Linked DNA regions of Homo sapiens: region 1 is linked to region 2. The links come from fine-mapping of genetic effects on gene expression. Tissue or cell type: cerebellar hemisphere. Region 2 holds a variant in brackets; the other region holds the start of a gene. All regions are shown on one strand. Distances are between the middles of the regions.

Region 1 (2,753 bases), 310 kb before region 2:
AAAAATGCCTGCCTCATCTCTAGGGGCTGGGGCATGGTGCTCATGAAGCCTTTGCCTGGGAATAAATACCCAGATCAGTCTGGGGATGAGAAATGACACTACCTTCCAGAGCACAGCAGGGGTTGTTCAAGTCTTCCAGAAAAGCAGCTCTTGTTTCTCCTCATGTGGTGGGAGTGGAGTCAGAGCGTGGCTCAGGCCCCACATTCTCAGCTGTTTGGATCTGGGGACTCGAAGTTTCTGGTGGTTACTTCTGAAAGTCTTTTCCAGGATAATTATTCTTGCTCGGTTTCTCTGCCATCTCTGACAGGCTGTTTTCCCTGCTTCCCCCGCTGCCCTGAAGGGGCCAGAGGAACAGGGCAGGACCCCAGGGCTGCGGATGGGTTAGGCAGCTCTGTTCCCGAATCCAAAGCAGTTCTTGGTGACTGTCCTCCAAGACTTGCCCTGGACCCTGCTCCGGGTGGGATTCTGAGACCGCCTGCTCCACGTGGCAGATGAAATCTAGGTCTCTTCTGTGAGAGGCTGGCGGGGAGGATGTTTTCCTGGAAAGGACCACAGGACAAACCGCTGATGAAATTTCTCTTGTGACCTCCCTGGAGGAAGAGCACTTCTGATTTCTGCAAACTTTTTCCATTCCCCCGATCTCACAAATGGGGAAACTGAGGCTAAGCGACTGAGTTCAGGGCCATCTGAATCTCAGGGATGGACAGTCAGGATGGACAACCTATAGGCCTTTCCTCCTCTGAGAATCTCTCTGCTCGGGATCGTTTTTCTGGTTTCCCCTGGCTTGCCTAAATTCTGCTCATTTGTCCCGGCGCATTTTAAGAAGTCATGTGACTTCTAAAGACTTCCCTGACCTCCTCCCTTCATTAGCTGGGTATTTCAGGGGCTTCTACGGCACCCTAGGCTTTCCGGAGCGGCTGTGCTCCTTTATGTATGCGCGACTCCCACTAGGCTATGAGCTACAGGAGGGAGGGTAGGTCTTGCTCCCGGAGAGCACCTTAATCACAGGCGCTGAATGAAAGAATGAACTGGTTGTGCAGGAACCAGGATCCGAACCCGCCTCCCCAGGTACTCTAACACCGGCCCGGCGGAACCTGCAAGCCTCCAGACCACTTGGAGCCTGGGCTGCTCAATGGGTCTGATAATTCCAGGTCCTCTCTGCGGCCAGCGAAGGGAGGTCCCAGGGCGCACCTCGGCAGGGCGGGGGACCCCGGTGAAGGGCGCCTGGAGGCGCGCTGCATTGTTAGGGTGATGAGGCCAGGTGACCCGCCAGGCTCGGGGCGCGGGCGCGGGGGCCGGCCGTGGCGATTGCCCGCGCCGCCTCGAGGGGGCCCTGCCGCGGGCGCCGGCAGCCAGCCAGGAGGACGGGCCCGCCCGCGCGCTACTCGGAGCCCAGCCTCGTTGCGGCCATCGCCCTGCCGGACCGCGCCTCAGGCTCCCCCAGGTACTGGGGCCGGGGAAGGAGGAAACGCGGCCACGCGCCGCGGTCCTCTTTGTTTCGGGCCCGGCGCGGGCTTTCGCGCTCCGGGCGCAGGAACGAGGCTTGGGGAGCACAGAGATCTGGAGCTGGGGCGCGGGGACTGAGTTCGGGGAGCGCGGAGACAGAGTTCGGGGAGCGCGGGGTACGGGAGCTCAGGGCGCGGGGATGGGGTCACGGGAGAACCCAGGTTAGGGAGCGCGGGGACCCGGTTGGGGGCGCACGGGCAAGGGGTTTGGTGCGCGCGGGTACGGGGTTTGCGGCGCGTGGGGGGCGGGGGCTCGGCAGGAGTCCCAGGACAGGGGCTGGGGCGCGGGCCAGCTTCGCCGGAGTCCGGGGACGGGGGCGCTGACTGGCTGGGTTTGGGGACTGGCTGGGGCGCAGGACCACTCGAGTGGGACCCGTGGCGCCCGGGCGCCCTGGACTGAGGGCAGAGACCGGAGCAGCTATGTCGCAGTCGCTGTCGGGACCGAGCGGACTTTGCTCCCTAGGACTCCGTCTCGAGACTCCAGGTGGAGAGCGCAGCTAGGGGCTTCAATGGGCAGGCTCAAGACCCTTCTCCTACTTTTTCTAGGCAAGCTCTCCAGTGCGTCTCTTTCCCTTTCCCTTTGGTGGGTGGGAGGCAGGGGGTCTTTACGCGCTTCCTTTTTTTCCCTGAAGGACGGGACCTCGGGGTGGGGGGATATTCTGGGGTGGGGGGTGCTGTCCCAGGCTGGGGGCCAGCTGTGTGGCATGTGCCTCCTGGCACGCGGGAGCTGTCGCTGACAAGCAGGAGGAGGGAGGGTCCCGGACGGCCCAGGGGTCTCTGTGTCGGTGCTGTGCAGCGGCCTGACATGTGAGTCCCGGGTCCTTTGCTTGGAGTGATTTGAGTGTCTGTGGCGGGAAGAGATTCAGGCGTTCCTCAGGCATTCTCCAGACAGTGTCAGCAGATGACCCGAACTCCAGCGTGGTTGAAAAACTCAAAGCGCCATCAGGGTGTGGGGCCAGCAGAGAGCACTACTGAGGGTGGTCACAACCCCCTGGGAAGCCCCCAGGCTTCCTTGGGGCGCATTCACACACTTTGATCTTCCGGGTTGGCTTTCCCCCCATTTTTTTCACTATTTGAATGCATGATCATGGAGGACTCTGAAAATATACTGAAAAGTATGAATGCAGAACTCATTGTATTAATATTGCATGGCCCTTCTGAACTAACCAACCCTTTGACATTTTAGATTTTCTTGAGGCTTTGGTCTGTGCATATTAATTTTTTAAATTGCTTTCATGCTTTCCCTTT
Region 2 (2,753 bases):
CCACGGATAATGTGTGCCACCTGTTTGCAGAGCATGACCCTGAGCAGCCTGCCAGTGCCATTGTCAACTTCGTATCAAAGGTCATGATTGGTTCCCCAAAGAAGGTCTGAGAACTCCCCTCCCTCCCTGGACCCACCGATGCCTCTCGAAGCCCTGGAGACAGCCGTTGGGTGAGGGTGGGGCCCCCACTTTTTACCAAACTAGTAAACCTGACATTCCAGGCCCATGAGGGGAAAGAGGATCTTCCAGCTCTGCAAAAACAAGAACAAACAACATCACCGTGAATTGGCCTTTCCTGAAAGTGACTTATCTGACACATCTCTGTAGCCACATGCTTTTTGGGTAGAAGAAGCTGGGCATGGGTGCACCCCACCCCCTAGGGTCCCCATGGGAAAGGGACATGCAAGGAAACAGCACAGAACACGAGGTGGTCCCCATGTCCCTGGCACACTAGCATTCCGGGGGATGAGGAATCCCCAGCCCTTGAGGCAGAGGTGCCGAGTGACTGCCATGCTTCGCCCGTCCGCATGGGCGCTTCTGTCCAGCTGCACCCGAGGCCGGGGGTTTCCCTCACCTCGGTCTTCCCAAGATGGAGATGCTAACGAAACTGAGAAGGGGGCGTATGTTTGACGAAGGTTTGTGCAAGTCAGGCCCTTCTGGAACACAGCAGGGCCTACAACGAGGGGCCTTTGCGATGGGCTGTGAGGATGGGGGTGGTGGGAAGAATTGGCCACGTTGGAGACCCCATGCCACCCCACCATGGTGAGTGCTCTGTGCCTCCTGCTCACCTGTGGTGAGCTGGGCGAGCTGGGCGAGCTGGGCGAGCTGGGCTGGGGAGAGCCTGTGAGGACCGAGAGGAGAAATGAGAAGAAGGAACAAAAATATTATTTCTATGTAATTTATATTTTACTTATGCCAAATTATTTATGATAATTTGCCATTGCTATACTGTACCAGTGTCAAATGCTGCAGCCTGCCAAGCTGTGATTTTGTGAGGCTTGTCCCTATGTAGGATGCACCGCAGGCCCCTGGCCACTGAAAGAGTGTGCAGTGGACTGTGGGTCTCCCATATGCGGTGCCGCCCAAAGGTGGCTTTGCCTCAAGCAACCTACCCTGATGTTTTACTCATTGGAATGTTTTTCCCCGATTGTGGATGACTTCTTTTCTGATGGAGAGAGTCCAGGAGGGATGGAAAACTCCTGGATTTAAGCTCAGCATCCCCCACATGGGCTTTTCGATCATCTTCAGGCCTGAAGCTGCACGACCTGAAGTTCGCCTGCATTTATCAGCCCTCTTTGTGCTGCTCCTTGCCACCTTGGGGTTCCTGCTGGGGACCAT[G/C]TGTGGTTGTGGCATGTGTGAGCAGAAGGGAGGATGAGGAAAAAGAGAAGAAACCCCGGTACTGACAAGCTGTTTTTGAGTGCCACTGTTTGCCATCATCTAAGCCACTGAATCAAGTGTATTTCAGGCTTATTTCAACATTCCAATGCCCTGGTTTTCCTGCTTGAATCTGTTCGTGGTCAAAGGTTTGGGGGAATTTGTGACCCTGGAACATCCCCAGAGTGAAAGATGGAGCTGGGCCACATCAGAATAAGGCCTTGGCCCCATCCTCTCACAGCCTAGGTGCTCTGCAGGCATGCTGACTGTCCTGATTGCGATCCAGCCCGAAATTCCCTCCTCTGCTTTCAAAAGTCAAATCCCCCATTCTTAGGCCACACTGGTGTCACAAGCTCCTGTCAGGGAGCTGGGGTTTGGGAATGTGCTTTGTGAACTCTGCTTTAAAGTGAGGGGCCGAGGAAAACTTAGAAACAGGCAGAGTTGGAAGCAGCCAAATCACAGTGGGTGTTGTGTGTGTGTGCGTGTGTGCATGCGTGCGTGTATGCGTGTGTGAAAGCAGGTGGACCATTCCACTTTTTAGCTCCTATTGATGCACCAAACCAAGTGCCTCATTTCTGTGCCAAATGTTTGCCTTGGTCGTTGTGGACCTCCTTCTCTAACTTGCGGTGGCATGACTGTCAGGAGGTGCTGGCATTTTCAGCAGATCCTCATGTGTTGACCCTGATGTCTTTAGCAGAGGCCTCTAGCATCTCGGTTTTTCATCCACTGCAGGAATGTGGCCACAGGGAGCAGAGGTTTGTACTTTCCCCAAGAGGTCCTCATCCTGAGACGGTCTCTACCCATGTTTAACCCAAAGAGTGCAGGCCAGGTTCCTTATCCTTCTGATGAAGGATGAGAGAGCTCATTTAGAAGTCAGAGCAAACTAGGGTCTCAGTATTGAGAAACGCAGCCTGCCAGGGAATCACAGAGACATCGGGGTGCCCGCGATGGCCCTCATGAAGCCATGCCTCGACGGCATTCAGGAAGCCCTGCAAACGTGCTTTTTGAACTCATTGGCCAGGTGTGATTTTTACACAAGGTAAACGTGGTCAAGGGCATCGGGGAATTTGCTCCAAGCAGATAGCTCCCTCTGAGGAACCAAAGGAAGCAAGTTTCCACGATTTCTGAAGAGCTGGTATAGGAAGTTTCTTTCTTCCTTTTGTGTTACATGTGCATTAAACAGAACAAGCTGTGTGTCATCACAGATTGTACTGTGGGCTCAGAAACCGTGAGAGAGCCCCCACCGTGGACACCGGCTCTAGGGCCACAGGAAAAGGAACGTTTCCAGGCATTTTGTCTCCAGGGCTCCCGCTGGACAGGCACGTACTGCCCTGGGGAGTAAATGCGGAGAGTTCACGAACTGTGCCCAACGCATGTTA

Direction of the effects. Alleles are on the strand shown, and positions count from the first base shown. SD is a standard deviation of normalised expression in the study named.
For the expression in cerebellar hemisphere of the gene that starts at base 1,384 in region 1, allele C in region 2 goes with a higher level than allele G (moderate effect, 0.44 SD a copy in GTEx).

What was found. PIP is the estimated chance that this variant, and not a neighbour inherited with it, causes the effect.
Region 1: TNS3 starts here. The variant in region 2 is fine-mapped to the expression of TNS3 in cerebellar hemisphere (GTEx, PIP 0.98).

Annotation. Positions count from the first base shown.
Region 1 is chr7:47,580,742-47,583,494 of GRCh38, reverse strand. TNS3 (tensin 3) reads left to right here and starts at 1,384. Exons shown (of 31, transcript NM_022748.12): 1 at 1,384-1,444. RefSeq lists enhancers at 973-1,510, 1,511-2,048.
Region 2 is chr7:47,275,433-47,278,185 of GRCh38, reverse strand. It overlaps TNS3 (tensin 3), which reads left to right. Exons shown (of 31, transcript NM_022748.12): 31 at 1-2,753. The coding sequence ends at 110. Among named protein-coding and RNA genes, the nearest start is that of SNORD151, 190 kb to the left of the region's middle. The variant G/C (reference allele first, on the strand shown) is at 1,339.